Linked DNA regions of Homo sapiens. The protein of the gene in region 1 purifies or fractionates together with the protein of each later gene. This does not show direct contact. Each region holds a gene or a part of one and is shown in the gene's direction. Other genes may lie near its edges.

What was found.
Region 2: the proteins of GNRH1 (region 1) and MALSU1 purify together in Homo sapiens (affinity purification with mass spectrometry; 2 studies listed by BioGRID and IntAct, with this or other methods). This does not show direct contact.

What each region holds. Positions count from the first base shown.
Region 1 is NC_000008.11:25,418,707-25,421,516, reverse strand, and holds the end of GNRH1 (progonadoliberin-1 isoform 2 preproprotein), read left to right. Parts: intron 1-2,056; coding exon 2,057-2,098; 3' UTR 2,099-2,259; downstream 2,260-2,810. UniProt on the Homo sapiens protein: Stimulates the secretion of gonadotropins; it stimulates the secretion of both luteinizing and follicle-stimulating hormones.
Region 2 is NC_000007.14:23,302,096-23,309,401, forward strand, and holds part of MALSU1 (mitochondrial assembly of ribosomal large subunit protein 1), read left to right. Parts: intron 1-5,772; coding exon 5,773-5,854; intron 5,855-7,260; coding exon 7,261-7,306. UniProt on the Homo sapiens protein: Required for normal mitochondrial ribosome function and mitochondrial translation. May play a role in ribosome biogenesis by preventing premature association of the 28S and 39S ribosomal subunits.

The sequences.
Region 1 (2,810 bases):
CTTTGGGGATCACTTAGGACAGCTACCTCCCAGATACTGTGGGGCTTACATTCCTGACTCCTCTGTTACCTCCTGTGGTAGGACCGTGTTTCATGACAATCCCAGTTGGTGGTTAGACAGCACTAGGGGCTGAAACGTTTTTTTGTTTGTTTGTTTTTTCTGAAGTTGAATTGAAATCTCTCTGTAACTTTTATCTCTTAATCCTGGTTCTAGCTTTTGGGATAACTAACAAAACAAATTTCTTCCCACTGCTGCATTTCATTTCTTCAAGTAAAATCACCAAACCCCCTAGACTACTCCACTCCAGGCTACTCCACAGCCCTCCACCTGATCCTGCAACTGTGCTTTATCTTACATGGTTTTCCAGAACCTTGGGGAATAGAGACATGAGAAACACTGCTGTAGATGGGTTTTTTTTTCTCTTCTTTGGAATGAAAAATGCCAAACTACTAAATTTATAATTTAGAGAGTGATGGACTTGATTTCCAGTTTCCTGATAGGACAATAATCACCTCCAAATTCCGCCCCCCAAAATGGAAATACACTAATCATATTAGGTTTTTGATGAAAAAGTATAAAGAGAATTGAATGTATAAATTGAATCTTTTAAAAAAATTATTTGTTGAGACAGGATCTTGCTCTGTTCCCCGGGCTAGAGTGCAATGGTGCAATCAATGCTCACCACAGCCTCAACCTCCCAGGCTCAAGCAATTCTGGAGACTAGATTAGCCTCTCTAGTAGCTGGGACTATAAGCACTTGCCACCACACCCAGCTGATTTTATTTTTTAATTTTTTGTAGAGACAGGGTCTATGTTGCCCAGGCTGGTCTCAAACTCCCAGCCTCAAGATCCTCCCAAAGTGCTGGGATTAAAGGTGCAAGCCACTGTGCCTGACTTAAGTTGAATCTTGGATTCAATGTTGATATTCTCTGATCTCTATTGTCCACTTATCTGCAGCAATCAGAAGGCATTACAGTTAATGATCAGTTATGCCTAGGAGCTGGGAAAGCCCAAATAAATCATATATAAAAATAAGCTGTAATTTTAATTGTCTACAGTGACTTCAACTTAATATACCCACAGAACAAAGAAAAAAGTGGGCAGACGTCGTTATTTCCTTTTTCGTTTTTTTTGGAGTGCAGTGGCGCAATCTCGGCTCAATGCAACCTCCATCTCCTGGGTTCAAGCGATTCTCCTGACTCAGCCTCCCGAGTAGCTGAGATTACAGGCATGAGCCACCACACTGGACTAATTTTTGTATTTTTAGTAGAGATGGGGTTTCACCATGTTGGCCAGGATGGTCTCAATCCCTTAACCTTGTGATCCGCCCACCTCGGCCTCCCAAAGTGCTGGGATTACAGGCATGAGCCACCACGCCCAGCCTATTTCCTTTCTTTTTCTAATCTTGCTTACTGCATTACAAAAATGGCAAGCAGTGAAATTTGTCAAACATGACATTATGAAGAAATTGAAGCAAAGGCTGGTTTAATAGCAAAGTAATTGACCAGACTTTTTTTTCACTTCCTTCCTCACAACTCATCCTTAAACTATTAATGTAGATTTTATGTATATTAAGTGCTTAAAAAGACCCAATCGGCCAGGCACAGTGGCTCATGCCTGTAATCCTAGCATTTTGGGAAGCCGAGGTAAGTGGATCACTTGAGGCCAGGAGTTCAAGACCAGCCTGGCCAACATGGTGACACCCTGTCTCTACTAAAACTATAAAAATTAGCCAGATGCGGTGATGCATGCCTGCAATCCCAACTACTAGAGAGGCTGAGGCACGAGAATCATTTGAACCTGGAAGGTGGAGGTTGCCATGAGCTGAGATCATACTACTGCACTCCAGCCTGGGTGACAGAGTGAGGTTCTGTCTCAAAAAAAAAAAAAACCAGAAAAACAAACCCAATTTATCATGTCTCCCTAGCACTAACTAGAGCACAAAATCAAACAGACCAATTCCTTCCAGACTGATATTTTAGAAATTAAAATGTCAAAATGTAATGAAATTCAGCTGGTAAAGTCAGTCTTGATATATTTGTTATATATTTTTCAGGAAAGTCTGATTGAAGAGGAAACTGGGCAGAAGAAGATTTAAATCCATTGGGCCAGAAGGAATGACCATTACTAACATGACTTAAGTATAATTCTGACATTGAAAATTTATAACCCATTAAATACCTGTAAATGGTATGAATTTCAGAAATCCTTACACCAAGTTGCACATATTCCATAATAAAGTGCTGTGTTGTGAATGAAGTGGCATACCTGTTAAATCTTTCTCCAACTCAGAACTCCGGGGGAAGGATCACTGTAAACCCACCAAAGGGAGCCCTCCATGTGTGTATACAGGTGGCAGATGGGAGGGCAGGTAAGATAAAGTGTCTGTTGTTGACAAAAGGGATCTCAGGCTCTCCAGCACCCATACCCTGCATCTACCCACAAGCAGAACAGCCACATACTGGTCCAGCCAGAAAAAGCTGATTCAGCTCCAGTTTCTCTGGGATTATAACTTTATCTTCGACCATACTCTTCAGAAGTTGAGGTGGGGCCACGGCCAAGGCTTTCTTCCACTTGGAAAGAAGTTCCCTCCCTTGATCGTCTCCAAACCCTTTGAAAGTTTACTGGAACCCAAATGAGGCCTGGGGGTAAGGAGAGGGGGCCTCCAAGGACTCCTAGTCCAGCGCTCCTTCTGGTCCCACGCAATCTATCCAAGTGGTGCACACTGAGGGTTGGGACTGAGACCTAAAAAATAATAGAGTGTTCATCTGCTTGATCTGTTTGGTTTGCATTTAAGAAACACAATGGAG
Region 2 (7,306 bases), on another chromosome or scaffold:
GTTCTATTGGACAGTGCTGGCCTGGAGTTTCATTCAAAGATTTGAGCATGTCCAGTGTTCCCAAGCACTGTACGGGGTATTGGGAAGGTAAGAACAAAAAAGATGTAGTCCTTGCCCTTACAGGTCTAGTTGAGGAAAGAAAGGGGGATTGTTTTCCAGTTGCACTGAATATGAATCAGAATGAGGAAGAAAGTACTTGGAAGCCTCTAGCTGACTCTGGTACCATTCCACGGGGCCATGATACCTTTCTTAGTCTTAGTCTGTTGAGAATTGGTCATAGAGGAGGCAGTTAAGACCAAAAGAGTAGCCAAAATTGTATAGAGAAAGGTTGTAAAATAAAAAGGTGGGGCCTATACACAAAACCCTGGTACATGACAGAGCAGAAGAAGATGCCAAAAACAGGGTAATTGGAGAGATAGGGAGAGAACTAGGAAAGCATAAAGAAGAGATATACAAAGACAGCATACCAGGGTCTCTATCAGATGTAATAGTGGGATGGAGTCAGAAGACTTAGTGACCATTGGACTTGCGGATGTAAAAAGAATGGGAGGTTTTACAGAGAAGTTTCTGTGAAAGAATAAAGAAATAGAAATTGCCTTTACAAAGATTTTAGATGAGAGAAATGCAAAGGCAAGAAAGTTTTGTTGTTTGTGGTAAAATATATATAACGTAAAACCTACCGTTTAATCTTTTTTTTGGAGACAAGAGTCTCGCTCTGTCGCCCAGGCTGGAGTGCAGTGGCTCGATCTCAGCTCACTGCAGTCTCCGCCTCCCGAGTTCAAGTGATTCTCCGGCCTAAGCCTCCTGAGTAGGTGGGATTATAGGCACCCACCACCACGCTTGGCTGATTTTTCTATTTTTAGTAGAGATGGGGTTTCACCATGTTGGTCAGGCTGGTCTCAAACTCCTGACCACCTCGGCCTCCCAAAGTGCTGGGATTACAGGCATGAGCCACTGTGCCCAGCCCATTTAACAATTTTAAACTGTGTTGTTCAGTAGCTTTAAGTACCTTCACATTGACTTACAATCATTACCACCATCCGTCTCCAGAAATTTTTTCATTTTGCAAAAACGAAACTCTGAACTCATTAAACAATAACTCCCCATTTCTCCTTCCGTAGGCAGCTACCATTCTACTGCCTGTCTCTATGAATTTGACTACTTTTCAGTATCTCATAAAAGTAGAATCATAGATTTGTGACCGACTTATCTGACTTAGCATAATGTCTTCAAGGTTCATCCATGTAGTAGCATGTGCCAGAATTTCCTTCTTTCTTAAGGCTGAATAATACTCTATCTTACGTATATACCACATTTTGTTTATCCCCTTATTCATTGATGGACACTTAGATTGCTTCCACCTTTTGGCTATTGTGAATAATGCTGGTATAAATATGAGTATAGAAATACTGTTCATGAGGCTGGGCGCAGTGGCTCATGCCTGTAATCCCAGCATTTTGAGAGGCCAAGGTGGGCGGATTGCTTGAGCTCAGAAGTTTGAAACCAGCCTGGGCAACATGGTGAAACTCCATCTCTACAAAAAAGACAAAAAATAAAATAAAAAATTGGCTGGGCTTGGTGGTGTGTGCCTGTAGTCCCAGCTACTTGGAATGCTGAGGTGGAGGATTGCTTGAGCCCAGGAGCTTGAGGCTGCAGTGAGCCAAGATTGTACTACTGCACTCCACCCTGGGTGACAGAGCAAGACGCTGTCTCAAAAGAAAAAAAAAAAAAAAAAAGGCTGGGTTCACACTTGTAATCCCAGCACTTTGGGAGGCCAAGGCGGGTAGTTCACCTGAGGTTAGGAGTTCAAGACCAGCCTGGCCAAAATGGTGAAACCCTGTCTCTATTAAAAATACAATAATTAGCTGGGTGTGGTGGAGGGTTCCTGTAATCCCAGCTACTTGGGAGGCTGAGGCACGAGAATCGCTTGAACCTGGGAGGTGGAGGTTGCAGTGAGCCGAGATTGTGCCACTGCTCTCCAGCCTGGGCAACAAGAGCGAAACTCAGTCTCAAAAAAAAAAAAAATTGTTTATGTCCTTGCTTTTAATGCTTTGGGGTATGTGCAAAGAAATGGGATTGCTGGATCATATAGTGATTCTGTTTTTAATTTTTTTTCTGTTCACCAGCCTAGCACAAAGCTGAATGTTTTTAATTTTTTGAGGAGCTCCTGTATTCTTTCATAGTGGCTACACCACTTTACATTTCTCTAGCAGTGCAGAGTTTCCAGTCTTCACATCCTCATCAACAACTTATTTTCTCATTTTGGTAATAGCCATCCTAATGGGCATGACGTGATATCTCATTGTGGTTTTTATTTGTATTTCCCTAAGGATTAGTGATGTTGAGCATATTTTCTTTTGCTTATTGGCCATTTGTATATATTCTTTGAAGAAAAGTCCTTTGCTTTTTTGTTTGTTTTAAAGAGACAGTGTCTCACTTTGTTGCCCAGGCTTCAGTGCAGTGGTGTGGTCATAGCTCACTGCAGCCTGGAACTTCTGGGCTCGAGTGATCCTCTCACCTCAGCCTCCCAAGTTGCTAGGACTAGAGGAGTAGGAGTAGTCAAATTCATAGAGACAGAAAGTAGAATGGTAGGAGTTACTCCACAGTGCCCAGCTAATTTATTTTTTATAGAGACAGGGTCTCACTATATTGCCCAGACTCTTTGCCCATTTTAAAATCAGGTTGTTTGTTGTTTTGTTGTTGAGTTGTAGGAGCTCTCTATATATTCTGGATATTAATCCCTTATCAAATATGTGATTTGCAGATGTTTTCTGCCATTCTGTGGGTTGCCTTTTTACTCTTTAGAGTGTCCTTTGATGCACGAAAGTATTTAATTTTGGTGAAGTTCAGTTTATTTTTTCTTCTGTTGCCTGTGTCTTTGGTATTATATCTAATAAATAATTGCCAAACCAGTATCATGTTTTCCCTATTTTCTTCTAAGAGTTTTATAGTTTTAAGTCTCCTGTTTAGATATTTAACCCATTTTGAGTTAGTTTTTGTAGGCGGTTAGTTTTCCATGTGGACATTTCCTCAGCAACGTTTGTTGGAAGGACTGTCCTTTGTGCATTGAATGGTCTTGGCTCCATTGTTGAAAATCATTTGACCATAGGCACAAGGGTTTATTTCTGGGCTCTGTATTCTGTTTCATCAGTCTGTGCGTCTGTCTTTTTGCCAGTTTCAGACTGTTTTGTTTACCATAGCTTTGTTCTAAGTTTTGAAATCAAGAAATATGAGACTCCAACTTTGTTCTTTTACAAGATTGTTTTGGCTATTTGGGGTTCCTTGAGAGTCCATATAATTTTTTTTTTTTTTTTGAGATGGAGTTTCGCTTTTGTTGCCCAGGCTGTAGTACAGTGGCACAATCTCGGCTCACAGATTCAAGCAATTCTCCTGCCTCAGCCTCCCAAGTAGCTGAGGTTACAGGTGCCCGCCACCATGCCCAGCTAATTTTTTGTATTTTTAGTAGAGATGAGGTTTCACCATTTTGGCTAGGCTGGTCTTAAACTCCTAACCTCAGGTGATGCACCCGCCTTGGCCTCCCAAAGGGCTGGGATTACAGGTGTGAGCCACCGTGTCTGGCCCCACATAAAGTTTAGGTTGGATTTTTCTGTTTCTTCAAAAAATATTGTGATCTTGATATAGATTGCACTGAATCTGTAGACTGCATTGGGTAGTATTGGCATCTTTACAATATTGTCTTCCCATCCATGAATATGAAGTATCTTTCCATTTACTGGCATCTGTAAGTTCTTTCAGCAGTGTTTTGTAGTCTTCATTGTACAAGTCTTTTGCTCCTGTGGTTAAGATTATTCTGCTAGGCTGCTCACGGTGGCTGATGTCTGTAATCCTAGCACTTTGGGAGGCCGAGGCAGGCAGATCACCTGAGATCGGGAGTTCAAGACCAGCCGCACCAACATGGAGAAACCCCGTCTCTACTGAAAATACAAAATTAGCCGGGCGTGGTGGCGCATGCCTGTAATCCCGGCTACTTGGGAGGCTGAGGCAGGAGAATCGCTTGAACTTGGGAGGTGGAGGTTGCTGTGAGCCGCGATTGCGCCATTATAGTCCAGCCTGGGCAACAAGAGCGAAACTCAAAACAAGAACGTCTCAATTAAAAAAAAAAAAGTATTATTCTGCTATTGTAAATGGAATTCTAAAAACTTTGTTTCCAGGTTGCTCATTGTTAGTGTATAGAAATACGATGGATTTTTGTGTGCTGAATTTGTTTAGTAGCCCTAACTGGGTTTTTTTTGTGGAATCTTTGGGGTTTTCTACATATGAAGTTGTATTGTCTTCAGAGATAATTTTACTTCCTCCTTTCCAATTTGGGTACCTTTTTTTTTTTTATTGACGAATTGCTCTGACTAGAACTTCCAATACTGTGTTGAATAGAAGTAGCAAAAGCAGGCATAGTCTTGTTCCTGATCTTACAGGAAAGCTTTCAGTCTCACCATTGAATATATTAGCTGTGTGCTTTTCTCACATGGCCCTTATTATGTTGAGGTAATTTCCTTTTATGCCCACTTTGTTGAGTGCTTTATTGTGAAAGGGTATTGAATTTTGTTAAATGCTTTTTCTGCGTCAGTTCAGATTATCATATAGATTTTTTCTTCATTCTGTTAATGTGGTGTTATTGCATTGATCCGTTTTTATATGTTGAACCACCTTGCATTCCAGGGATAAATCCCACTTGGTCATGGTCTATAATCCTTTTAATATGGTGCTGAGTTTGGTTTGCTAGTATTTTTGTTGAGGATTTTTGCATCAAATGTTCATCAGGGTTATTGGTCTTATGGAATGAGTTAGGAAGTGTTCCCTGTTCTTCAATTTTTTGGGGAGAATTTGAGTATTGCATTCTTGTTTAAATATTTGGTAAAACTCATCAGGGAAGCCATCTGGTCTAGGACTTTTGTTGGGAGATTTTTGATTACTGATCCAGTCCCCATACTAGTTATGGTCTATTGAAACTTTATATTTCTGCATGATTCAGTCAGTAGATTGTGTTTCTAGAAATTTTGCTATTTCGTCTAGGTTACCCAGTTGTTTGGTGTACAGTTGCTCATAATACTCTTACAATCCCATTTCTCTAAAATCAGTAGTGTCACTTCTTTCATTTCAGATTTTAGTTGTCTTTTTTCTTAGTCATTCTAAGAACCAAATCCTAGTTTCATTGATTTTGTCTTTTTCCTGCCCTAATTATCATTTCCTTTGATTTTGGGGTGATGTATATGAGATGTCCTTTGTCTCTTGTAACAGTTTTTACTTAATTGCCATCTTGTTTGATATTAGTATATCTGTTTTAACAAAAGAACTGAGCACATTTATAGGATGACGGGGTCCCATTAACATGTCATAAAGGCAGATGAGATGAAATCAGTGGCACTGAAACAACCTGGCTTTATAAACAGAAGGTAGTATCTGCAGCCCCTAAAGGTGAAGGAAAGCTGGGATGAACACAAGTGATGGATGTAGGTGGGTACCAAATGCTGACTGAGCTTAGCTTTTTCAGCCTCAGAGGCACCTTGGTGAATGAATGGGGTGACCCTCTCAGAAGGGCTGGGGCAGGAGAATTCAGGAGAGAGGTGAAAGTGAATAAGATTTAGAGGGAGAAATAGTTTCCCTAAGTTATTCATCACAGGGCAAAGTATAGCAATGAGAAATGAGTAAGAAAGATTAAAAAAAACAAACAAACAAACAAAAAAAAAAGACCTTCAGCAAGAACAGGCTTCCCCCATCCCCTCTCCCTTTAATAAACCACCTGGCTTTTTGCAGTACAAACACCTGAAATGTAAACGTGACCCTCATGTTAAGATAGAAGGGAAGGACACTGATGACTGGCTGTGCGTGGATTTTGGTAAGTTATTCTGGCGTATTTTACAGGTAACTGTTGGTACTACGCTAATCTTGAATTGTTTTCAGTTGCAAAAGGATTGAGATCAAATTGATGAATGTATTTCCAGGTAAGATTTTTGAAGTGTGTTTAAGGTAACAAAAGTTTTTTTAGTTATAATCCAGGTGGTCTTATTCACATGTAGAATTTTCACCTAACCAAACCAAAGTACCCTAGATGATGCCCTCCTGGAGGAAGATATATACTACATGGTGTGTATCTACTAGCCACACAGATCAGGAAGGTGGTGGACAACAGGATAACATAGTAGAGGCGGGAGAGATTCCTTAGTAGTGGTAGAGGAAGGTTTGGGGGCTGTGGTGCATAAATGAGATGAGGATGAGGTTATTCCAGGCACAAAAAAGGACAAGAGCAGAAGACTAGAATTTTGAAAAGATCTAACAACTTTGGGTATTAATGTGTACATAGTTTCAAAGCACCTCCCAACAAGATAATATTTACAAAGGGGAAACATAACTGTATGTCAAGAACTGAGGAGTCTGAGATTTTATTCTGCTTGTAAGCTAATACATTGTCCCGCCAGTTTTCATGGACACTGGTAAAAGACAAGACTATTAGAGGGTTAGAGACAAAGAACAGTTTATTACTCACAGCAGTAGCCAGCATCCATTTTGCACTGGTTTCCTGAGCTCTGGATTCCATAGGGCAACATGGGCCAGATGACACCAGCACACACAGTTGTAAAACTGGAACTCAGATGAGGGTGTCTAGGTTTTTTATAACTGGCAGGAAGCAGGCCTACTTTTGCTCTGATGGTTTCTCACTTTTGTCGCTATTAACGTTTTGGACCAGGTAATTTTGCATGTGGGGGAGGGGTGTCTCTTGTGCACGGTACGATGTTTAGCAGTATCCTCCCTTCTCCAATTGTGACAATCAAAAATGACTCTAAACATTACCATTATTACCTAATTGAGAAATGCTGCTGTAAGCAAAGCTGCCCTTTGCCCTGGAGGGAGGCAGTATCTTTCTGTTAAGAATATTCACGATACAAACATTCTTGGATAGTCAAAACAAAAGGCAGTCAGTGTTTTTGCACAAAAGATGTGCAGAAGTGTGTTACCCATGGAGAATTGTCACCGAAGAGAATCCTGACACCATTAGTCTCTTTGATAAAGTTACTATCACCAGCAATGTTATATATTGACATATGCCTCCTGTAGGTACACTGAGAAAGGCATAGCATCACTTCTGTGGTATTTTTGCTGGGATGGAGTCCACAGTGATGCTAATCTGGGAACCACACTTGAGAACCACTGCTTTATTCCTAGAGTTAGCCAGTGTGTGTTGTAAGGTAAGAATAAAAGCAAATGAACTATTCCTTCATTGTATCTCTTATCTGTCCCTGACAGGCAGCATGGTGATTCATTTGATGCTTCCAGAAACCAGAGAAATCTA